3 separate regions of the Homo sapiens genome follow, and all the other regions are linked to region 1. The links come from fine-mapping of genetic effects on gene expression. A gene starts in region 1. Each other region holds a variant in brackets. All regions are shown on one strand. Distances are from middle to middle.

The links. PIP is the estimated chance that this variant, and not a neighbour inherited with it, causes the effect.
Region 2: its variant is fine-mapped to the expression of CNTROB in whole blood (GTEx, PIP 0.95).
Region 3: its variant is fine-mapped to the expression of CNTROB in aorta (GTEx, PIP 0.92).

Annotation. Positions count from the first base shown.
Region 1 is chr17:7,927,569-7,935,741 of GRCh38, reverse strand. It overlaps CNTROB (centrobin, centriole duplication and spindle assembly protein), which reads right to left and starts at 3,536. Exons shown (of 19, transcript NM_053051.5): 1 at 2,393-3,536; 2 at 1,520-1,604; 3 at 1,196-1,277; 4 at 597-753. The coding sequence starts at 2,662. KCNAB3 (potassium voltage-gated channel subfamily A regulatory beta subunit 3) reads left to right here and starts at 5,886. Exons shown (of 14, transcript NM_004732.4): 1 at 5,886-6,548; 2 at 7,916-7,959; 3 at 8,048-8,085. The coding sequence starts at 6,307. TRAPPC1 (trafficking protein particle complex subunit 1) reads left to right here and starts at 3,796. Exons shown (of 4, transcript NM_021210.5): 1 at 3,796-4,011; 2 at 4,166-4,236; 3 at 4,593-4,731; 4 at 5,008-5,393. The coding sequence starts at 3,913. The coding sequence ends at 5,136. RefSeq lists a silencer at 2,488-2,665 and enhancers at 2,593-2,722, 2,853-3,142, 3,173-3,232, 3,453-3,502, 3,843-4,082.
Region 2 is chr17:7,888,857-7,897,029 of GRCh38, reverse strand. CHD3 (chromodomain helicase DNA binding protein 3) reads right to left here. Exons shown (of 40, transcript NM_001005273.3): 1 at 7,930-8,173; 2 at 7,254-7,366; 3 at 6,289-6,459; 4 at 5,966-6,090; 5 at 3,461-3,744; 6 at 3,095-3,225; 7 at 2,765-2,915; 8 at 2,422-2,615; 9 at 1,880-2,113; 10 at 1,488-1,691. The coding sequence starts at 8,029. Among named protein-coding and RNA genes, the nearest start is that of CHD3, 4.2 kb to the right of the region's middle. RefSeq lists enhancers at 2,083-3,282, 7,240-7,809. The variant A/T (reference allele first, on the strand shown) is at 3,451.
Region 3 is chr17:7,305,073-7,313,232 of GRCh38, reverse strand. EIF5A (eukaryotic translation initiation factor 5A) reads right to left here and starts at 5,605. Exons shown (of 6, transcript NM_001970.5): 1 at 5,481-5,605; 2 at 3,433-3,618; 3 at 2,111-2,215; 4 at 1,752-1,883; 5 at 1,582-1,655; 6 at 770-1,411. The coding sequence starts at 3,597. The coding sequence ends at 1,593. It overlaps GPS2 (G protein pathway suppressor 2), which reads left to right. Exons shown (of 11, transcript NM_004489.5): 9 at 1-21; 10 at 109-204; 11 at 394-572. The coding sequence ends at 477. RefSeq lists enhancers at 4,149-4,438, 5,669-6,479, 6,309-6,608, 6,480-7,291 and silencers at 4,909-5,028, 5,119-5,288, 5,649-5,758. The variant C/T (reference allele first, on the strand shown) is at 3,200.

The sequences.
Region 1 (8,173 bases):
AGGCAGCCAGTACTAAGACAAACAAGATACGGACCCTCAAATTTTAGAGAGGAGAAAAAAACAAGATATATCAGAACGATAAGCTACATGAAAGAAATAAGAAGGCGATCTGACTACTTGGAAAGGAGGTGGTGCCATATTAGATGGAATGGTCAAAAAAGCCCTCCTCAGAAAAACATTTAAGTCCCAGCTTTCAGGCTCTTAACCCTCAGCCCTTTTCTTTTTTAGTTTTTTTTTTTTGAGACGGAGTCTCGCTCTGTCGCCCAGGCTGGAGTGCAGCGGCATGATCTCGGCTCACTGCAAGCTCCGCCTCCCAGGTTCACGCCATTCTCCTGCCTCAGCCTCCCGAGTAGCTGGGACTACAGGCACCCACCACCATGCCCGGCTAATTTTTTCTATTTTTAGTAGAGACGGGTTTCACCGTGTTAGCCAGGATGGTCTCGATCTCCTGACCTCGTGATCCGCCTGCCTCAGCCTCCCAAAGTGCTGTGATTACAGGCGTGAGCCACCACGCCAGGCCCCCTCAGCCCTTTTCAACACTTGGGTCCCCTCTTTCTAATCTTTGCTGCTTTCGAAAGGAAGCGTTTGCATCTTACCTTGCGGCGGGTATGCTCTGAATCCAATGCATCTCTCAGCCCCTGAAAATCTGGGGGATTGAGTGGAGGCCCTGGCCGAAGGCTGGTGTAGCGGGGAAACAGCTCCTCCAGGGCTTGGGCTGAGCTAGATGGAGACAAGTCTTGCAGGGGCCGGGTGCTGAGCAAATCAGGTAGAGAATGTTAGGGCTGGGAAAGCTTTTGGAATCCACTTGTCCAACTGTGATATTCTACAAATGAGGAAACTGAGACCCAGAGAGGGCAAGAGACTTGTCCAAAGTCGTAAAGCTATATAACCATAGTGCTATAAATAACACACAGGTCTGTGATTCACTTAAAGGTTTCAGCAGAAACAAGCTAACTCTTTAGAGGGGAAGAATGACTGCAGGTTAAGAGAAAGCCAGGTACTAGGCAACAGATACCTGTGTTCCTGAAGGAGTAAAGGGGGCAGGAGACAGTAGAAAAAGATGAAAACTGAAAGGCAAGTGATAAGCCTCTTGGGTTCTTAAGAGGTACAAAAGCAATAAAGGGAGAAATAAGGAACAAAACACCTGGATTTCCAAGAAAGCAAACAAGCTAGGAGAACCACAAGGAGAACTCACTTGAGCAAGGTGGCTGTGCTATCACTGTCAAAGGAGTCCTCTTCCCGTCTCTCTGAGCCAGCGCCAGGAATGAGAGGATCCCCTGCAGGCAGCCAGAGGGACCCCAAAGCCAGAGTCAGGTAATGACAAAAACAGGGGCCACCTGAAGAGAAAAGGCCTTCCTTTCCAGTTCCCTCACTCCTTCACCCCCTCTCCCAAAGAACGGGAGACTTTTCTCCTGAAATCTCTTGCTCAGAGGTTTTCCTGCCTGCTTCCTCTGTCCACTTTCTCCCACCCCTTACATCTAGGTTCTCCTTCATAGTTCTAGGGAAGGGGCTTACTCACGATAGGCTGTATCACGTGAGGTTTGGAGCATGGTCTGGAGCTGACCCCGAACACTTTCCATCTCAAAGATATGCTTAGAACCATCCTGGAAAAAAGCCACATGGAAATCAGATGCAGTCTGTGTTATCTATCTCCTACCTATTGCCAGGGTAGAATTTTCACTCCAGCACTTTGGAAAACAAGAAAAACCAAACGGATCCAATAAGGGATGTCCTAAACTTGAATCAGAAATTCAAATACTACAGAAGCCAGAAAGAGAGTGTAAATAAAATAATCGAGGAGGTATAAGACAAGAGTTGCGGAGATTCTTGCCGATTCAAGAACAAATGTAAGGACTGTATGGCTTATGGCTATCATTTTCAAACTCTGGAAGACCTAACCAGTCTGCAAATTGACTCTGACACCTTTTCTATACAATACTAATAACTATCTTCTCTGTAACATGTTGTAGTTGACTAAGCTATGTCTTAATGATGTACATGCCAAAGTTGGAACCATACTATCAACATAGTGTTGAGCTGGAAGGATCGGAGCTGCTATCCTAAGTCCCTAGCTCCCTCTTGGGATCAAGAAACCTTACCCATTCCCAGTGCACGGGAAATAGCTCACCAACCTACCCCATAGGTTTGCTCTATCTACTCGGAGCAGAGATGTCTCTCACAAAAAAACACTGGGAAGTTTCATAATTTTCAAATTATGGTGTCCCAGGTCACTCCCTCCCTTATAAGCATGGCTGCCTATGCAGTTAAAAGGAATATGAAATCCAACAGGAAGAGTTCAAATCTCATCAAAGCTTTTTATTTTTACCAACCCCAATCCCAAGACTCTCTGGTGTCTAGTGCCACAGTGGTCTCCAAGACACACTTCCCTCACCTTTTTCTTCAAGTTCTTTTCCAATCCGACTGACAAGCTTCGACTCAATTCTTGGGCGAAGCCGTCTAACCCTTCATGAGGCGGGGAGGTGGAGGGTAAATACAGCTGGGCTCGGGCCGTGGCCTCCGCCTGCCGGCTGAGGCGCAAAGAAGCATAGAGCTGGGAGGTCACTTCAGACGACACTTGGTTGAGCCCAGGGGGTTCTGATGAATCACTCAGGAGATCCTCCGCCCCGAGGGGTGAACTGGGGCTGTCAGCTGATGTTGCCATGAATACAGGGAAGAGACAACCGGAGACAGCAAAGAGCTGGGAGGTTCTGCTTTAGCAAAGTCCAGGAGGAAAAGTTCACGGAGAAAGACTTGGGAGAAGGGAGGAAGACTCCACGCCAAGGATCCTTGGTGAATTAAGGATATCGAGGCTTTCTGGTTAGAGGAAAGGTTTCCACCAGTTCCAGGGGCCATGGGAGTGGGCAAAAGCATCCCTTTCCCCAGCTCCTGGGAACAGCGTTAAGAGGGTGCAGCGCAGAGCGGGTGCGGACAGAAGACCTACTGTGGGACAACAGCGCTGCTGAAGCTCCTCTTCCCGACTACGAGTGCTGGAAGCTGCAGATCAACTCCGGCACAGGCTATCCCCGGTCAACTGAGCTCTTAAGTTCTCACACCCAAAACGTCCCAACGGAAACGGACCCAAATCCACTAGGAGCCCAATTTCTGTCCCCCTGCCCTACTAGTCCCTCAATTGGTTCCAGTCTCAAGAGAGGGCGGAACCTCACGCTCCCCCATCCCTTCACCCGTTCTACCCAGGGTCAGCTCCAGCTCCCTTGTACTTTCCCTTCGACCCCTCCTGGCAAGAAAGCCATAGCGAGCTTCCTTGTTCCCTAGAATCTCTCCCTCCCGACCACCCCAAAAGAAACCTTGTGAACCCTCAGTCACGCCCTAAGTCGTCCCTAAGAAGCACGCCGCCCTCAAGCCTAGCCCGAGATCCTCTGCCCCGACGACCACCTGGTTCCGCCTACTCTCCACCCTTCCAGTCCTCAGTCCCCAATTTGCCAAAGTGGGGGGCAAGCGATTGACCTCCTCCCCTGAGATCCCCCTCTCACGCCTCCCCCTACGCTCAAAACCGTTGGCAGCCTCCCGCCCACTGTCCACGGCTCCGCCTCTCTCGCCTCGATGACGTCACCCGCCCGCGAGACCACGCTCGCAGACACTCACATCACTTCTGTATCCCGAGCGCCTGGCCGCGCGTGCGCGGCTCCGGTGGCCACAGATTGGCTGAGGGAGGGAGGCGGAGTCTGACAAGCAGCACTGGAGCGGAGTTAATGCCCAGCCGCGGCCGAGCGAGAACCCCCCTAAGGGGCGGAGCTCCGTGGAAACCGGAAGTAACTCTTGACGGGCACTCGGAGCAGTTCCGGTGAGTCCGTGGGTGGGGTCCCCACCTGGTTGGAAGGCTGTGGGTCCGGGAACCCGAGCCCAAGGAGTGGGGGCGGCCCCGGAGCGAGGCTCACACTCCCTGCCCTGCAGATGACTGTCCACAACCTGTACCTGTTTGACCGGAATGGAGTGTGTCTGCACTACAGCGAATGGCACCGCAAGAAGCAAGCAGGGATTCCCAAGGAGGAGGTGACGAGAGGGCCCCGGTGCAGCCCGGGCGACCTCTCATCTCCAAACACCTATAGTCCCAACCCAGCCCCTCCTCTCCAAACCCCAGCTCGTTCCCACCCCCCACCCCATCTCCCGCATCAACCGAGAGCTAACTCTGCCCCTCTCCCTCCAGGAGTATAAGCTGATGTACGGGATGCTCTTCTCTATCCGCTCGTTTGTCAGCAAGATGTCCCCGCTAGACATGTACGCGGAGTCAGAGAAGATGTTGGGAGGAGGGCTAGCCTTGGGAATTTGGGGATGGGGGAAACTTTCTGAAGTGGAAGGAGCATTGGCCTCCAGAGGGGGGAAAGGGTACTTAAGAGAGGCTGAGTCCGGAGCGAGAGTGCTGGAGCTGGCAGGAGTGGGGGTGGGGAGGGTCTGAAAGTAGAGAAGTTGGTGGGGGCTAAATTGAGGGGTGACGATGGGCGATGTCTTTACTCAACCAGGCTTCTACAAAGGATATGTTTAGATAAAGAGGGAGTCGATGTTTGCGGGGATCAGAAGTGTCTCTTTGGGAGAGATTCTGCTCCCATTCTTTAACACCCTCCTCATCTCTGCAGGAAGGATGGCTTCCTGGCCTTCCAAACTAGCCGTTACAAACTCCATTACTACGAGACGCCCACTGGGATCAAAGTTGTCATGAATACTGACTTGGGCGTGGGACCCATCCGAGATGTGCTGCACCACATCTACAGTGCGGTCAGTGCCAGCCCCAGGGACCCATCCCCCAGAGCTCTTCAGAACCCCAAGACTCCCTCATCTCCCCTGCCCCAATCCTACTATATGTTTGCTCAACTCAAGAGTTTTCTCAGGGGCCCTTAGGTTCTTAACTCCCACCACCACTTTCTCCTCAGAGAGGGCTTGCCTTCCAGCCCTTATTCCTTGTGCATTCACACACCCCTGAGGTTATACAAGGTTTGGGGCTAAAAACCAGAAGTATCCAAAGCCTGGCTCTAACATCTTCCCTTTCCATAGCTGTATGTGGAGCTGGTGGTGAAGAATCCCCTGTGCCCGCTGGGCCAAACTGTGCAAAGTGAGCTCTTTCGCTCCCGACTGGACTCCTATGTTCGCTCTCTGCCCTTCTTCTCCGCCCGGGCTGGCTGAAGCAACCTACCTCAAGTCTCAGGAGAATTCATGTCTGCCTGGGGCCCTTCCGAACCTGTGCCAACTAAGGGCCCCCACTGTAAGCCCCCGCACCCCCACCCCCTGCCCAGAGCAACAGCCTAAAGGCCTGCCCTGATGCTCTCCTCCTACCAGAGTGAAGCCCACAGAGTCCCTCCACCTCCACACCAGGCCCTCTCTCCAGTTTTATCCCCTGCCTAATGCTGCGAGAAGCACAGAATAAACTTTTTGTCACTCTCTGCGGCCTGAGCGTGTTGGTTTGAGGGCCCTCTCAGTCCTGCCCCACGCATGAAGGTGGAAAGTAGGGCAGCCACACCCCCTGGAGGGCCACGAAGTGGCTTTGCGGATGGGTTTCTCAACCGTGGGAATATTGATGCTTTGAGCTGGATAATTCTTTATTGTGGGGACCGTCCTGTGCTTTGTAGGATTTTAGCATCCCTGGCCACCACCCACTAGATGCTGATAGCACAGGCATGAAATCAAAAATATCTCCAAACCTTGCCGAAAGTACGCTGGGAGATACATTCCCTCCCGATTGAGAATCACTGGGCCGGGGGAAGCCTGACAGCCCTTGGGTCCCAGAGGGTGCAGGAGCCATCCTCCCCAATTCCGCTCAGAAAATATTCAAGCTGCAGAGCCTTCAGCAGGCGGGGCTTATGCAGATGAGCGGCAGGTTTGGCTGAGAGGAGGGCGGCTCTATGCAGATGAGGAGGCGGTGCCTGCATGCTGATGAGCTGGGCCCGCTGCCGACGCGGCTGGGAGCCCAGCGGGTCCCGCAGCGGTTCGCGCTGAAGTGGCATCTCTCTCCCGCCCCGCTTCCCCCTGGGTCCTTATCCTCCGAGACCTTTACCTCATCCTCGACCTTTACCCTCATCCATTTCCCCCTCCTAATCCTTGCTCCTGTGTCCCCCGTAACTGAATATCTCCACTCCTGGCGCCCCCCACGTTTCTTCCCTCCCGCCGCAAACCTCGCGACCTCCAGCAGCCCGCCCCCGCGGGCCCGATCCTGCCTGGCGGCTCCCGCCGCAGCCTCCTCAGCCTTCCCGCTCTGCCGGGGTTCGCCCCACTACGCCCCCGGTCGTCAGCCCTCGGGCTTCCCTGCTCCCCCCTCCCGTCCCCTCGGAGCCCCCTCCCCCGCCTCGGCCAGCCAGCATGCAGGTGTCTATCGCGTGTACCGAGCAGAACCTTCGCAGCCGGAGCAGTGAGGACCGTCTGTGTGGACCCCGGCCGGGCCCCGGGGGCGGTAATGGTGGGCCGGCCGGCGGGGGGCACGGGAATCCTCCGGGGGGTGGAGGGTCTGGCCCCAAGGCCCGAGCTGCACTGGTTCCCCGACCCCCAGCGCCCGCTGGGGCCCTCCGAGAGAGCACCGGCCGAGGCACTGGCATGAAATACAGGTATGGGGGTGGCCGGGCAGCCCACCCCTTCCGCTTTCCTTTCGGGACCCCTGAGACTGCTTGAGATGGCCGCCAAGACCCCTTCAAACTTCACTAAGTAGGTCTCCCTTCTTTCCATCTCTTCTTTCTGTCTCTGGCACTCCCTCACTTTGTCCCTCTCTTGGTTTCTGTCGATACCCCTGACTACGAGAATCAAGTTTACCAAGGTTGACTGGGTCCTGTCAGACCCAGGGGATGCCCCTGAGCTTCCCTCCTTACCCCTGGGAAGGTCAGGGATGCATGGATCTCCACGCTACACGGATCTCCAGGCTATGCCTCCTCCAGTGGAGTGTCCTTGGGTCCGTGTCCTGGGGAGTGGAGGGAGGGAATCAGCTTCTCACTCTGGCCTGCTCGGGGTGCCTGACCCAGATACTGCCCCTGCCTGCCCCAAAGGCTAGGTCTTCTGCGACCTTTCTTGGGTGCAAGGGGAGTGGGGCCGGTGGGAAGGATGGACCACATTTTTCATCTCCATGCTGAGGGACAGGGTCTGGGTAGACTGAAATGTAACTGACTTTATCTCAGAGGACTGCCAGACCAGAAGCTCAGAACCTGAAGTAGGGGGTAGAGGAGGGGCTCCTGCTTGGGAGTGAGCTGAGGTCACTGATCTGACCTGCTTTGTCACCTGAGGAATCTGATCCCCTCTATATGGTGGCCCTGATTGGAAAGCTGAGCTGACACCTGGGTTGGGGGCTTTGGGAGGATGAGGGGGCTCACTGGTTCAGAGACAGTCTTCACAAGTCAATAGGAACAGAGGGAGTGGAGAGGGAGAACTAGGCTTTTCTGTCTTACTCTCCCCCCTCCCCCCAGGTCCTCAATCTGCCTTTCCTCCAGGCCCATCTGCCTAGCCTAGCCAGGGACCCCTGTCTGTCTGAATGCCTGAACTTGACTTGGTTTACCTCTTCCAACCTGCCATCTACCATTTGGCACAGCACTCTGCCTGAGGGCCTGGTCTCACAAACTCACCACAATCAAACAAAATTCCTCCCAGCCCCTCACTGCACACAACCCACAGATGACTCAAACACAGACAAGACCCCAGAAGAAGGACAAACCAGACTGCACGTCTTCAATGTGATAAGAGGGAATGGAGACTCTGGACAGTGGCTCCAGAGGAACAGTCACATATGGTTCACTTGTCCTTTTGAGAAAATTCCTAGGACCTCTGCTCTGGAGATAGCACTTGCCCAATCTTATAGGCCCACTGGGTCTAATTTCTTTGGACTGAGACACCTGAGGGCTTCTCAGTCTGGAAGGAGAGGAGCTGGGGGCTGATAATCTAAGTCCATAATGGAGGCTCCACCCCTTCCCGCTGCTTCTGTATCTTGCAGGAACCTAGGGAAGTCTGGTCTTCGGGTATCCTGTCTTGGCCTAGGTGAGTCAGAATAGGGATTAAGGAAAGGAGGGCATTCTTTCATGGTCTGCCCCCTGCAGTTCTCATGTGCCTGGCTTCTCTCTTGCAGGTACCTGGGTCACATTTGGTTCTCAGATCTCAGATGAGGTATAAGTTATCGGACCTAGAATCAGGGTGGTGGGGGTGAGGGAACTTGAAAAAAGGGAAGTGAACCTGGATAGGGGTTTGGACAACA
Region 2 (8,173 bases), 39 kb after region 1:
AACAAGGAACCGGGAAGAGGCCGGCAGGAGGAATGGGACAGGGAAAGGGAGCTATGAAAAAGGATGGATTGGCCCAGGCACGGTGGCTCATGCCTGTAATCCCAGTGCTTTAGGAGGCTCAGGCGGGTGGATCACCTGAGGTCAGGAGTTCAAGACCAGCCTGGCCAACATGGCGAAACCCCGTCTCTACTAAAAATACAGAAATTAGCCAGGTGTGGTGGCGCACGCCTGTAATCCCAGATACTCAGGAGGCTGAGGCAGGAGAATCGCTTGAATGCATGAGGCGGAGGTTGCAGCGAGCCAAGATCACACCACTGCACTCCAGCCGGGGCAATAAGAGAATAACAGGCGCGTCCCAGCACTTTGGGAGGCAGAGGCAGGTGGATCACCTGAGGTTGGGAGTTCGAGACCAGCCTGATCAACATGGAGAAACCCCGTCTCTACTAAAAATACAAAATTAGCCAAGCGTGGTGGCGCATGCCTGTAATCCCAGCTACTTGAGTGGCTGAGGCAGGAGAATCGCTTGAACCCAGGAGGCAGAGGTTGCAGTAAGCCAAGATCGTGCCACTGCACTCCAGCCTAGGCAACAAGAGCGAAACTCCATCTAAAAAAAAAAAAAAATAGAAAAAAAAAGAAAAAGGATGGATTAGAGATAAATGAGTCAAAGCCAAGACGGAGAATAAATAAAATGAAACAGATGCAACAGTTTCAGAAGACAAGGCCTGGGTGGGGCTCTTACAAGCAAGAGATAGGGAATGGGATTAGAAACATTGAGAATTTTTTTTTTTTTTTTTTTTTTTTTGAGATAGAGTGTCGCTCTGTCGCCCAGGCTGAAGTGCAGGGACACGATCTTGGCTCACTGCAAGCTCCGCCTCCCGGGTTCACGCCATTCTCCTGTCTCAGCCTCCTGAGTAGCTGGGACTACAGGTGCCTGCCACCACGCCCAGCTAATTTTTTTGTATTTTTAGTAGAGATGGGGTTTCACCATGTTAGCCAGGATAGTCTCGATCTCCTGACCTCAGGTGATCCGCCCACCTCGGCCTCCCAAAGTACTGGGATTACAGGCGTGAGCCACCACACCCAGCCGAGAATTTTTTTTTAAACAGAGATGGGGTTTCACTATGTTGCCCAGGCTGGTCTCAAGCAATCCTCCTGCCTTGGCCTCCCAAAGTGCTAGGATTATAGGTGTGAGCCACCATGCCCAGCCAGGAATATTATAAAACATGGAAAAAGACAGATAAGGAAGGACATGAAGTTAGGAAAGGCTATGCTATATCTGAGGGAAGGAAGCTAACGGAGACTGAGAGAAAGAGGACTGTAGACCAAAAGAACCACATATGGAAACTAAGCAAGTAGGGTATGAAGGCCACAGGCCTGAAATGAGAGAAAACAAAGAGTATGGGAACCCAACAAACAGAGGAGTAAGAGAGGGAGAGGATGGCAGGAAATGAGGTCATGGGGGAGAGGGAAAGAAAAGGTCCTAGTACCTGAAGCTCCTTGGCCCAGGAGCAGTGCCAGTAGGATAGTCCTACCCACTTGACAAAGAACTCTCGCTCTGATCTGCCTTGAAGAGGACGGGGGGGTGGGACATCTGGATTTCCATCTGCCTGTTGAGGGGCTGGCACTGCTACAGGTGGCTCCCCCCACCGCCAATGTAGGATCTTCTGCACTCGACCCTTCAGCACGGGGCACTTTGGGATGGACACGTACAAGGAGGAGGAAAGAAAGAGGCAGAAAGAACCCATTGTTAGATGAGAAGATAGGGGTCCCACAAGGGTGGGGGAGTGCAGAGAAATGAAAAGCTGGACATGTGGGCCCCAGGGATGGGGGAAGGGATCAGGCCTGACAGTAAATACAGAGGGGAGATGTTTCCACTCACTGTGCATCGGGGACACAGCCATTCACCATTGGGAATGTCAGGCAGGGGAGGGTTTAGACAATGAATGTGGTAGGAGGAGATGCACGCGTCACAGCACAGGAGCTCCCCGCCGTCCTTGCATACGCGGCAGTACTCCATGTGATCATCCTCCTCCTCCTTCTCCCCTTCTTCCTCTCCCTCCTCTTCGTATTCTTCTTCTTCCTCCTTGGCCTCCCACTGGACCCCCTCCTTCTCCTAGGGGGCCAAGGATAGACACACAGACAGATGGAAGAAATTAAGGAATGAAACTGGAAGATACAGGCAAAGACAGGACACCTGAATCCTAGAAGTGCAGAGAAGACTGGTGGGAACTAAGGAAAAGGACACTCCAGTTTCAGAAATGTTGATTGTGGGAGAAAGGAATACATTAGGATCCTAGACACTCGGACATCTGTTACTAAGAAGTCCAGCCATCTGGGGGCAGGAAGAGGGTAAGTGAAACCAAGGGGGAAAGAGATGGGTGGGTTCCTCAGGGCCATCAGATGCTGGCATTAGGTACTCACACAGTGAGGGCAGCTCCATTTGCCCTCTGGAGCCCGGTCAAGCTCAGGATCAAGGCAGACGAGGTGGTAGGCACGAGGGCAGGTGTCACACAGAATAATTTCCCCACCCTGCTGGCACACCTCACAGTAATCCTGGTGATCCGTCTCGTAGCCATCAACCTCCTCCTCCCCGGCCACTGCAGGACAGCCCAGGACTGTCATATACCCCGGTGGAGGGATAAGGAAGCAGGGCAGGGGGAGATGGAGAGAGAGAGGGAGAAGGGTTGAAGAGAGAAGTCAAAATTGAAAATAAGAATGAGAGGACGGCCCACTGACAGGATCACACACAGTCAACACTCCTTACCCTTCTTCTTCTTCCTTCCTGGCCGGCCTCTCTTTAGTTTCTTGGTGCGGACAGGGCCATCAGGCCGGCCTGAGGCACTGTGGACACTGCCACTGTCCAGGTCTGATTCCTCAGCCTCTGGTTCAGGACCTTCGTCGCTCTGAAAAACATACTGCCCATAGCCCCGTGGCCGTCAGTGAGGCAGACTTCATTCTACGCCCTCCCCAGGCCTTTGGCTTCCTGTTCCGCCATCCCTCACGGATCCCTGTCTCTGGATCCTTGGCCCTCACGGATCCCTGTCTCTGGATCCTTGGCCCCCAGGTGTTTAGTAGACAGGGACGGGTCACTCACCGAGCCTCCTTTCTTCCTCTTGCCACCCAGAAGCCCTAGTTTTATTTTGAGTGGTGCCATTTTCTTTCCCCGAAGCTTCTTGCGTCCATCAGGCACTCGGGGGCTCTTACTCCGCCTCTTATGGCCTGGACCTGAATGAGGAGTCGGGGTGAGAAGAGGAAAAAGGAGAGGTCATGACATCCTGGAATTATGGAGGTCACAGGGGCCTCTGGATTCCTCTGTGGGCTGTGGTTTCACTAAGCCCCACTTCCTGGAAAGCATCTCTCCTCCAGCAATCAGGGCTGGGAAGGCGAGAGTTCCAGACTCTAATGTGAAGACATGCAGTTTGGAAGGTGAGATGACAGTTGTTGGAAGAG[A/T]GTTCCCTACCTTTGCCCTCTTTGGTTTTGGCTCTTCGGATGGGTGGGGGCTGGATATCAGCAGCAGGGGGTGGTGGAAGGGCGGGGGGTCCGGAGGGTGCTATGGGGGTGGCCGACGAGACAGCAGCTGACACCTGCTCAGCTACAGCTGCTGCTGCTGCTGCCGCTGCCGCCGCCACAGCAGCTGCTGACCCCTTGAAGGGGTTGTTGGCACTGAACTCTCTCCATTTGGCCCCAAGGATGGTCATCATCTTAGACATTGGGATCTTAGGATTCTTCTTAGCAATTAGGGGCCTGTAAATATAGAAGCAGAAAACTCGGACCCTTCACAGATGGTCTGGGAACACTGCCATCTCCCCTCATCAATTAAATCTATGTACATGCTAGGATTCCTGGGTGGTGAGAATATGTCCTATTAGGAAAAACAGCCATTTAAAAAAATAAATAAAAAGAAGTTTAAAAAAAGCGGGGAAAGAACAGGTTTAAAAAAGCATTAAAAAAGAAATACAGGCCAGGCACGGTGGCTCATGCCTGTAATTCCAGGCTGAAGCAGGAGGATTGCTTGAGCCCAGGGCTATGAGATAAGCCTGGGCAACAAAGTGAGATCCTGTCTCTACAAAAAATTAAAATAAAAAAAAATAATTAGCTGGGTGTGGCAGCACCTGAGGCTGAGGCAGGAGGGTGGCTTGAGCCCAGGAGTTGGAGGATATAGTGAGCTATGATCACACCACTGCAGTGCAGCCTGGGTGACAGAATGAGACCCTGTCTTTAAAAAAAGGGAAATAGGCTGGGCGCAGTGGCTCACGCCTGTAATCCCAGTACTTTGGGAGGCCAAGGTGGGAGGATCACGAGGTCAAGAGATGGAGACCATCCTGGCCAACATGGCGAAACCCCGTCTCTACTAAAAATACAAAAATTAGCTGGGTGTAGTGGTGCGCACCTGTAGTCTCAGCTACTCGGGAGGCTGAGGCAGAAAAATTGCTTGAACCTGGGAGGCAGAGGTTGCAGTGAGCCAAGATTGCGCCACTACACTCCAGCCTGGCGACAGAGTGAGATTCCATCTCAAAAAAAAAAAAAAAAAAAGGGGAAATAAAAAACAGCGAAATAAAACTTAAAAGCATAAAAGGTTAAAATAAAATCAACAAAAATGCTTTACTTTTGTATACTACTTTACAGTTCATAAAACCCTTTCACATACATTCCACCTTATCTTGTCCTCACAATAATACTCTTGAGTTGCTATGATTCTCTGCATTTTACTAGTAAGTTCCATGGGCCCTGAAGATGGGCTTCCGTAGGACGGAGTGTGAAAGAGTCAGACCATGCTGGTTCTGCTCTGGGGTGGGGTGCTCAACTCTTGTGCGGACACGGGTGATCCATGGTGCTGAGAAAAGCCCCAAGTTCAGCAGTAAGGTAGGTGAGACAACGTTACTAATGACAGTCACCAGTTACTGAATGCTCCCTAGGAGCCAGGCACTGACGGTACTGTGCTTTCCATTCATTATCCCACCAAACCCACACAGATTCCTATGAGGTATATATTATTATTCCCCGTTTATAGAAGAGGAAATTGAGGATTGAAGAAGTTCAGTCACTTGCCCAAAATGTAACCAGATGTGAACCTCAGCAGCTGCCTCCAGAGCACTGAACTGATATGTTAAAGTGCCTTCTCCCCAAAACAAAATACATCGGCACTATTTTTTCTTTTTTTTTTTTTGAGACGGAGTTTCGCTTGTTGCCCAGGCTAGAGCATAGCAGTGGTGTGATCTCGGCTCACTACAACCTTTGCCTCCCGGGTTCAAGCGATTCTCCTGCCTTAGCCTCCCGAGTAGCTGGGATTACAGGCATGTGCCACCACGCCCAGCTAATTTTTTTGTATTTAGTAGAGACGGGGTTTCACCATGTTGGATGGGCTGGTCCTGAACTCCTGACCTCAGGCGATCCACCTGCCTTGGCCTCCCAAAGTGCTTGGATTACAGGCATGAGCCACTGCACCTGGCCCATCTCTGCTATTTTCTACTCTACTATTCTCTACTTTTCTTCAGGAGCCACTGAAGCTCAGGTCCCACTGCCAGCAGTGGACCCTCCATTATTACCAGGGCCTAAGGAAGGGGCACAGGACCTGCTAAGTGAGCTAAGGAAGTTCAGGAACACTGATGGTATCTCTCAGGTCCAGTCTAGAGAGAAGTCACAGAGCAGAAGATGGAGCTGTTGGGGCAGGGGAGGGCTCACTATATTCTGTCCTCACTTTATTCTGTTGCTAAAGAGTTCTCTAACCCAGCACTGGAATCATGATGGCCCCTCCACCCCTCGCCCCTCAGTGAAGAGTTCTCAACTGGGGTTCTTGGATCCTTATGAGTCTAGGAGTTCCCTGAAATGACGTGTAGAATTTGGTGTGTATACACCGTGAATTCTCTGGAGAGCAGTTTCATAGCTTTCATCAGATTCCAAGGGGTCCAGGACCTCCCTCAAATTAAAAGTGTCAATTAGCGAGGATTCCCCAGTCTTACCGCACCTCATGAACTGGCTGAAGGCTTTGTAGTTGGTGAGCGTGTGGTAATCCTCCTCAGAGAACACATGCTCCACATCCTCCAGGCCCCAGGTCAGAAGCAGAGTTGCTGATGACTTCTGTTCCACTTGCTGCGGGAGAGGGGCTTTGGTGAAGTAGGTGCTCCTCCAGCCCCTATTCCAGGCCGCACACAGGCCTGTCTACCTACCCACTAGCTTCCCTGGGCTTTCTTGCTTCTTGCCCCATTCTCCAGTCCAGTCTCCATTCCTCCCCTCCTCATGCCCGTCTTTAATGCAGATTTCTCACTCTCATTCCCTAATTCTACTCACCTTTTGCCCCCCATCTCCCTCCCCCTTTTTCCGCCGCTTTGTCTTCTTCTCCTTTTTTTCTCGGTGCTTCCTTCTTCGTTTCCGACCCGGTCCGGTTCCATATTCACTGCCCCCACTCTCTGACTTCTCCCGGTACTCATCTCGCTCAGAACCAAATTCCTCCTCACTGTCCTAAGAGAAAGAAATAAAAATAACATTTATTCATCCCTACCATTGCCAGAAACTGTTCTCAGCACATACCATATCTTACCTCTTTTAATCTTCACAACAATCCTGTGATAGTAACTAATTTTTTATCTCCTTTTTTTTTTTGGAGATGGAGTCTTGCTCTGTCACCCATGCTGGAGTGCACTGACGTGATCTCGGCTCACTGCAACCTCCACCTCCCGGGTTCAAGCGATTCTCCTGCCTCAGCCTCCTGTGTAGCTGGGATTACAGACGTACCACCGCGCCCGGCTGATTTTTGTATTTTTAGTAGAGACGGAGTTTCACCACATTGGCCAGGCTTGTCGCGAACTCCTGACCTCAAATGATCTACCCGGCTCAGCCTCCCAAAGTGCTGGGATTACAGGCGTGAGCCACTGCAACCGGCCTTTATCTACTTTTTACAGATGAGGAAACTAAGGCACAGAGAGCCAAATAAACGGCCTGGTATCCTAGACAGAGGAATGCTGGACTCTTGAATTCATACAGTCTTCCAGAGCTTGTGCTTTCAACTGCTTCTCTTTGCTGCTGAGGACACACTGACAACGAGGCTCTTCACTAGGTTGCAGTGAATGAAGTTAGGGTCCCAGATCCCTGAGATACAGGCCAACAGTGGCAGGGAAGTGGGGGGCCCGGGGGATCAAGCCTCCCTGGCTTCAGAACCCCACCCCCACACCAGTAATCAGGACCAGAGAAAATGTAGGTCTCTGAGAATGGGTCTCTTGAGCCTTGCCACAGAGTTAGGAATTCTTGACACTTACACGCTTCTTGCGTTTTCGGGGTTTTCCTGGCTTGTTCTCCTTCTGCTTCTTGGGTCCTCGTTTTCTCTTCTTCACACCCAATGCTGACGGCAGCAGCCGAATGTCATCCTTATCTTTGAAGCAAAAAGCATCAGAAAACCTAAGCCTCTAGGTTTCCAGCCTCTGAGGCCCCTCAACTTGCCCCTTCCCCACCTCGGCAGTTCCCACTCTCTAGGAAGCATTAACTCCTCCAAGCCCTGCCTCCCTTCACTGGATGCAAACAGAAAGTGTTTCGAGTACTCTGGGATGCTCTGGTTCTGAATGGGAGGTCAGGGGTCAGAAGAGAAGAGCAGCCAAACCACTCCCCTCCCTCCCCTCCTACTAACAAGAGACCAGGCTCCAGGCCATGGGCTCTGACTGTGGCAGGTCCTTTCAGTCACCGCCAGGGCTCCTCCTGCCTTCCCCCTCACTTCGCCAGCTGGCATCCTGCCCAGGAACTGGGGAAGCCATGCCCAGCTGCTGGCCTGGCCTGACCCCAGCACTTGGAGTGGGGAGACACAAGCTGGCAGCTCCCTAAGCCAGATGCTGGGGAGGGAGAGCCAAAGGTGGACACCTGGGTTCTCACACTAACACCCTGGGGCCCTGACATCCTTTTGCCAAGAGGGAGGCCTCTATTTACATTTCCTCGGATAATTACCAGGCATCCTGTCACCCCAACACAGTCCTGGAGGAAAAGAAATCCTCAGCTGGTCATTTTTACTTCTTGCCCACAGGATCACAGTGTCTGCCGCCTTCATCACACAGGAGAAAGTCTCCACAATTACCTAAATATTCCTCCTCCCAAGTAGCCTAAAACCTACCTTCAATTCTATTCCCATCTCCCTGCTCCCTTTGGGAACTAGGGGGCCATACCCTTTGTTTCCCGATCTCACCCTTCACCT
Region 3 (8,160 bases), 620 kb after region 1:
CAGACTGGCTTCTCCGACTCAGTGAGTATGGCACCTTGGGAGGTCAGGGTTAGGGATATGTTAAGGGGAGCTTCAGTATGCCTCAGGCCCTGACTCTGTTCTCTGCAGTCCTCTCTGCGCCCCATGCACCCCCAGGCTCTGCATCCAGCCCCTGGACTCCTTGCTTCCCCCCAGCTCCCTGTGCAGATGCAGCCAGCAGGAAAGGTAAGAATGGTAATAGAATTTACCTGTCAGAATCCCTACACTAGGGATCCGGAAAAGCAGGATTAGGTAGGACAGGTGGCCCACATCATCTGGTTTTTCCTTCCTCTTTGGGGGTGGTTATCAGTAGGGTATTAAGTGGAAGGGAGAGTATGCCCAGTGACAAAGCCCTCTTTTCATCACCACCACCAGTCGGGCTTTGCAGCTACCAGCCAACCTGGCCCTCGGCTCCCCTTCATCCAACACAGCCAGAACCCGCGATTCTACCACAAGTGACCATCAGATTATATCTTCAACACCACACCCCCCACCCCATCGTGGGTGAGGGTATCCCCTGTGTGTCCCAGGCCAATAAAATCTACCTGCCACTGCCCCTGGCTGCTGCTGTTTGTGTTGCCTCCCACCCAACTGTCTGGAATAGGTCAAGGTTGCTTGGAGGGTGGGGGGATGGCTGGCAGGTCCACAGCAAGTCAAAGTGATAGACAGCGGGTTCCAGTGAACTCAGTGGCAGAGTTCAGTCTTTTTGTGGCTTCCAAATACACCCATTTAATTCAAATAAGCAGCTGAGTTGGGGGCTTCATATTAAACTTGTAGTTTTATTCAGGTTTGATTTTAACAAATGTGTCGGGGAGAGAGCCCGCAGGGAAGGGTAAAGCCCATGGGGGCAGGGCCCTCCCAGATGCCTGAGGAGGGGGCAGGTCCCCTCCCCTCTCCTCCTCTTCCCTCCCCATCTAAAGGGGTTTGGGGAGAGACACAGGCAGGCGAGGGGGCTGGTCCCCAGTCTGTTGGGGTGGTGCTCAGGGTAAAGGGCTATAGGCAACAGGGGACCAGACCAGGGATGAGTGGGGAGGGCACAAGGACCATTTGCCAGAATCCACCGCTTTCTGATTCCAGATTGAATTAAAAAAAAAAAAAAAAAAAAGACTAAACCACAAGCAGCACCCACCCCCTTCTCCCCCACCAGGGCTGTAGTGTGAGGGGAGAAGAGGAGGGCAGCTTCACCAAGGCCACAGCTTCGCTCGCTCCTGGCCAAGGGAGCTAGGTGAAGGGCAGGGGCTCCCCGACAGATTGAGGGGGTGGGGAAAACCAAAATAAAACGTCAAATAAATTGTGTAGGAGGAGTCCAGCTTAGGACCGGGCCAGAGCCAGGCCAGGCTCGGGGAGGGGGCCTCTGCAGGTTCAGAGGATCACTGCTGCCACCACCGCCACCCTAGGTAGGAGAGAGAAATTAGTAAGACAGGATAATACCTTCAACAGGAAGGATAGGGAGGACAGAGCCAGGCTAGGGGCAGAAAGTAAGCCTGAAACAATTAAGACTACAGCAGCTCTGCTGAGGACAACAAAATGTGAAGGGGACAGTGAGGGATTTGTCACACTCACCTGGGAGCCAGTTATTTTGCCATGGCCTTGATTGCAACAGCTGCCTCCTCTGTCATGGCAGACAGCACCGTGATCTGGAGAAGCAAGAGGGATAGCCAAGAGATGTCTGAGCTCAGGAAGAAACGTACAGAACAAAGCTGAGCACAGAAGCAGGGAGGGAGGCACCATACCAGGATCTCTTCTCCACAGTCGTACTTCTGCTCAATCTCCTTGCCAAGGTCTCCCTCAGGGAGACGAAGGTCCTCTCGTACCTCCCCGCTGTCCTGGAGCAGTGATAGGTACCCATCCTGGATGCCAATCAGCTGGGGGCAGATAGGGAAGGAGGCTGAAGGTAGTAGGCCCAGGGAGGCTGACATGACAGTAAAGGCTCTGATAGACAAACTGGACTGATAGCAAACTAATACCAAACACCCTCTCCTGCCATTTCCCTCCTCTCTCCCAGCACAAGCTCTCCTGGTCAGTCCCTATCCCCCAACCCCTCCCTCCACCATAAACCGCTAACCCATCCTCATCCAGACCATCTACATACCTGGAAGTCATTCCTTTTGATGTTGGGGACATCCATATTATGAGTTGACGGGCAGATATCTTCATATTTCTTCCCAGTAAAGATGTCAATACCAACCAGATGGACCTGTATGTATGCATCACAAAGAGAAACCCAACCAAACTCTAAAACGGAGGAAATAAAGGCTCAAATTGACCTTGCCTGATGAGGGAAGTCAGAATTACATTGTTGGGGCAAAGACTGGAGTGTTGGAATTGAACCAGTCAACTCAAGAAACAGTAAAGCCTCTTAAAGAAAAAAAACAGAGGCTAAAAAACCACCGTTGAGATTGGGGTTGACAGCACAATAGAAAACTGCATGGCAGGCTTGGAGAAGACAGTTACCTTGATAAAAGATAAGATGCTAAGAGTCTAGGGGAGTGGGAGGAGTCTGAGTAAAAGTTTCGAAGAGTTTTCCGGACACCAGGAGAAGGAGCTGAGAAACTGGGGAATAAGGAAGGTAGAAGGGAAAGGATAAGAAACTAAGAAATGTGAAAGAGCTGAAGAAAAGGACTTGCAGGGAGATCAGAAATAACTATGTAGCTAGAAAATAAGGAAGCCAGAAGAGCACAGAGAGGGATCCAGACACTAGAGAATAATCCAAGATCAATGTCAAGTCAAAAGATGGAAAAACTGATTAAGGAAAAACACCACAAGAAATTCAACAAGAACGAATCAGGTTGAAATTCTAAAGAGACAGGAAAAGTCTGAGGTGATGAGGGAAGTGCTAGCAAGAATGTTAAAACCCATGAAAGCATGGAGGCTCAAGGAACCCAAGGAGAGTGGGATGGGGCAGGTAGGGGCAGTTTGATCCTGCGTCAGAGTTCCAAAGGGAAAGCTAGAACTGGGGAACGAAGCAGCAAGGTGACCTGAAAGCTCAGAATTGACGCAGGAGTCCCTCCAGGGGAAGGCGTAGAATTGGAGAAACCCTGGGCAACGTGATGGAAGCAACCACTTAACAACGGCTCAAGGGAAGAAAGAAAAAGTGAAAACCAAGAATAAGGAAGGAGCAACTGAATAGCTAGAGCATAAAGGCCTATGAATTGAAGAGATTGGCACAAAGCTGGAGAAA[C/T]GGAGGGACTGCCAGAGAATGATGCGGGGACAGAAGGGTAACCACAGAAGAGGCTGAAGACTGGGGAGCAGGTGTAGTTGTCTGAATGGGTATGAAGGCTGAGCGCTAAACAAAAACAATCAGACAGTAAAAGCAGAGTTAAAGGAAAGTCAGCACTGTTGGCAGCTTGCTGCTGGGAGCGCCAAAGATACTGGAGGCATGGGGAAGGCAAGATGCGGAGGTGAAATTCTAACCTTGGCGTGGCCGTGCTTGCCAGTCTTCGAAGTAGACATCTCGACGATCTTACATGGCCGGCCTTTGAGCACCACAAAGCCATTCTTACGTAATGCTGAGCACTGCATTGGGAAGGTGGCTGAGGCCCCTGCATCTCCTGTCTCGAAGTCCAAGTCATCTGCCATTTTAAGAGGCTTCGATTCCAACTAGAGCCAAGAAGAGAACTGAAGTGAATAAGCATGGAGGTCAACAGGACCTCCAATCTATCCCATTTCTCTCCAGAAACATTTTCCCAACTCTTTATTCCATTACCCACCTAAAATAAAGTCAAAGTTCCTGAACTTAAAATACTGACTGGGCTCAAATATACTCAAGAACTGGTGTGTGTATGGGAGGGTGGAATAGCTGGTTTCTCCCCCATAAATCAAAGCTAAAGTGGTGGCTTGGGAAAGGAAGGCTCTAGGGAGCTGGAATGTCAAATCTCAGAGATGAGAAAAGGCCTACTTCCTGGGAGTGGGGAGGACTCAGGTGTTACTTGCCACTGAAACCAACCACCCCTCTTCCCCACATATAGCCAGGGCTATAATTAGGTGAGCAGCTATGATCCAGCAAAAGGGCAGGGCTAATTGGGGGGGGGGAGGGTGGAGACCGGAGGACAAGGCCCCACCCATCTGTTACACTGCCCCCCCCCATCCACACACAAACCAGTCACTGCTACAGGAAACCACAAGGCCTCTTTGGGGGATTCCCGCCTCGCCAACATGCACTTGCAACAAGCCAAGGGGGAGAAAGCAAAGTTGTTTCCGAAATGATCCCCCTGCCAAACACCTCGATCTTGGTTCCCAAAGAGAACCCAGGAACCCAGCCTCTCCTGGAAGGCCCTCCCACTTTTCCCAGGATGCATCTGTCCTGTCGGCTTTTCAGGCCGGGCCAGTACAGTCAGTAGAAAGTGGGAGAGGTGGGGGGTGGTGAATGACAATAAAATGAAAGCAAAAGGTTGGTAGTAGTGAGTAGTAGAAAATCATACTAGGCTAGTAGAGTTAAGGACTTCGAAACCGTGGAACTCCCAAACCAGTTACAACAGGAAGACAGTGACAAGGTGAAGAACGCCTATCACGGTGGGAAACTCATCTGCCTGAGGCTTTTAGGCGCTGTCCACCCAGGCCGACAGAAAAGTTGGGCTCCTGTCCAAACGCCCTGTTTCCCCATTTCTCCGGCCTCCCAGCTCGAAGGGGTGCCACTTACACCTGGCTGACCGCCACACTTCACAGGAGGGTTTTTCAGGAAAGCTCCTGGGGCCCTTGAGGTTGGGAAGCGCTAACATATGCCTGCAGCAGGCCCTCCGGGGTGATTAGGACCCGAGCCTCCGGCTTCCACTCCTCAAAATCTCAGGCCCCCTCGGAACCCCCGCGAGGACTAGCTCCCCGCGCTAGGGGCTGCCGGCTCCTGCCGACCATGTGGCCGTTCCGGGCTTCCGGTGGCCGGGACCTGGGGGGAGGGGTCCCCGCGCTGCCATGCGGCCCCGGTCCACGCTTGGCCATGCGGCCTGCGACCCCGAGGGCAGCCTCCCGTGGGGGGCACTTCCGGTGCCGCGGCCGCCCCCTCCTCAGAGACTGCGCCAGGCCGGAGCCACGCCGCCTCCCCTCCCCCCGGCCGTCCGCCAACCCCCCCCATCATGCCCTCTCACCGAATAGCCCCCTCCCCCACCTCACGTGGCCGCGCTGAGCCGGGTCCTCAACGGCCCAGGTACCCTTGCCCCGGTGGGCCGATCTGGCCCCTGGCCCTCGCCCCGGCGTGGCCGCCTGGCGGCCTCTCCCGCGTGGCTGCCTCGCGGCTCGCCGTCCCCCGCCCTGCGTCGCTCCAACGTCACCGGGCCAACCCCAACCGTCACCCCGCGCGCCAACCGGGGCGCGCGCCCGCGCCTCTCCTCACCTCGCGCCGCTCTCTGGCCGAACCCGTGCGGCGGCGGCCGCCGCTCCCCTCTGCCCCCTCCCCGACCCCCGCGCAGTTCCATCTTCTCCCGGGCCCAAGCCAAGGTACCGCGCACACGCGCCCTGCCCGCTCTCACCTCGCGCGAACGCACTGACTCGACCCCGTCCGCTCGCCGCGAGCCCAACCGCTGCCTCCGAGCCCGCTGCCGCCGCCGCCGCCGCCTCTACCGCCGCCGCCGCTGCTGCACACGGGTCTTAGTACGCAGGCGCCGACTCCCCACTGACCAACCAAGCAGCCCTATGACAGCCGCGCAAGCGTGCTATCTATCTCCTCCGCCCTCCACCCCCGCACTGCGCAAGCGCACACACCCTACCCATCTCCACCCTCCCTCCCACCGACCCGTCCAATGACGCGCATACGTGACCCCGCCCCTCACAAACCCTGAGCGTTTTCAACTAATCTGCAACGCGCAGGCGCACCCGGTTTTTTAATCTCTTCAACCTCATCTTCCCTCCCCTTGATAGACCGCTCGTCCTACCGGGCAGTCCTTGCGCCTGCGCAATAAGGAGCCCTGCACTCCACACCCTCTAAAGGAAACGCCTGGGTCTCAGAACGCATGCGTGTTCGGAATCCTAAACAACCCCTTCCACCTCAGACGCCGTCAGTACGCCAGGCGTTGAAAAGACCACGCCGCTAGATCACTTGTCTCGTCTAGAACGCATGCGTCTCAGGATACGCCCCACCTCGGCTTTAACTGGACTTAAACGACTCACACGTTTCAGAAAACTTGCTCTGTGGGGTGGGCGCCTTGTCTTGGAATCAGTCCCCCCAGTTCCACACATGCGCGGGAGATGTCTTTCCGCCCCACTCTTCTAGCGCGCTAGTGTGGTCGGGTTCCCACCCATCTCGGCTTCACTTCTCTAAATCGAATGCCTATGCTCTGCCATAGAGTTCACCCGAGAAGATAGAGCGGTCCTGCGGCGGACACCATCTTCTTTAAACCCTCAGTCCGTATTGGTCTCTATGGCATCCATAGAGGCCATTCGGCTCTGAGGTCCTCAGTAAAGAAACTTAGATGGTATTACTGTGTTTTCCCCAACTGTGCTCTGCGGTTCCCCAAAGTATTGTCTACGAGGTCCCTTAGAAAAAATTGTCTATAAAAATGAGTGGTGGGCCGGGCGCGGTGGCTGACACCTGTAATCTCAGCACTCTGGGAGGCCGAGGCGGGCGGATCACCTGAGGTCGGGAGTTCGAGACCAGCCTGACCAACATGGAGAAACCCCGTCTCTACTAAAAATACAAAATTAGCCGGGCGTGGCGGCGCATGCCTGTAATCCCAGCTACTCGGGAGGCTGGGACAGGAGAATCGCTTCTCCTGTGGAGGTTGCCGTGAGCCGAGATTGCGCCATTGCACTCCAGCCTGGGTAACAAGAGCGAAACTCAAGTCTCAAAAACATAAATAAATAATACATAAATAAAATAAAATAGTGGTAGGCCGGGAGCGGTGGCTCACGCCTGTAATCCCAGCACTTTGGGAGGCCGAGGCGGGCGGATCACAAGGTCAGGAGTTCAAGACCAGCCTGGCCAACGTAGTGAAACCCCCGTCTCTACTGAAAATACAAAAAAATTAGCCGGGCGTGGAGGTGGGCGCCTGTACCAGCTACTCGGGAGGCAGAGGCAGGAGAATCGCTTGAACCCAGGAGGCGGAGGTTGCAGTTAGCCGACATCGCACCACTGCACTCCAGCCTAGGAGACACAGCGAGAGACTCTGTCTCAAAAAAAAAAAAAAAAAAAAAAAAGTGGTATGTTAGATTACATTGACATTGTCTTAATCATAGGAGACCATGAAGCTGGAGACGAGCTATCTTCCCAACTTTATTTTCTTTGCCCTCCCTCTCTCCGCCCCCCATTTCGCTTTTCCTGAAACTTCGTAGTCTTCTTCCAATTCCTGGGTTTCTTGCACTACCTTCATGGCTGCCTTGTTGGATAACAAGACTGAAACAAGCGGCCAGGCGCAGTGGCTCACACCTGTAATCCCAGCACTTTGGGAGGCCAAGGCGAGCAGATCACTTGGGTCAGGAGTTCCAGACCAACCTGGCCAACATGGTGAAACCCCGTCCCCACTAAAAATACAAAAATTAGCCGTGCCGTGGTGGTGCGTGCCTGTAATCCCAGCTACTCGGGAGGCTGAGGCAGGAGAATCGCTTGAACCCAGAATGTGGAGATTGCAGTGAGCCGAGATCTCGCCAATGCACTCCAGCCTGCACGACAGAGCAATACGCCATCTCAAAAAAAAAAAAAAAAAAAAAAAGACAGAAACAAGCGACCAAAGATCTTGGGATCTCATCCTTCTTTTGTGTCTTTAAGGAATTACTTCAGATAGCTCTGCCTTAATTTTCTTCCCATAAAATGAGAATAATAATGATGCCTGAACTTCCCAATTTTTCAGGACGTTGCAAAAATTCTGCAACATGGGTTGGGCATAGTGGCTCATACCTGTAGTCTTAGCTTTTTGGGAGGTCAAGGTGGGAGGCTCCCGTGAGGCTAGCAGTTACAGACCAGACTGGGCAACATAACAACGGCCCATCTCTACAAATAAAAAATTAAAAAAACAAAAACAAGAAAAGCTCAGCTCAGTGGCTGGTGCCTGTAGACCTAGCTACTCTTTCTTGGGAGGCTGAGGTGGAGGGATAGCTTGAGTCTAGGAGTTCGAGGCTTCATTGAGCTATAATCCCCACCACTGCACTTGAGCCTGGGCAACAGAGAACCTGTTTCTTAAAAAAGAAAAAAAAAAAGTCTTGTGACACGATACATGT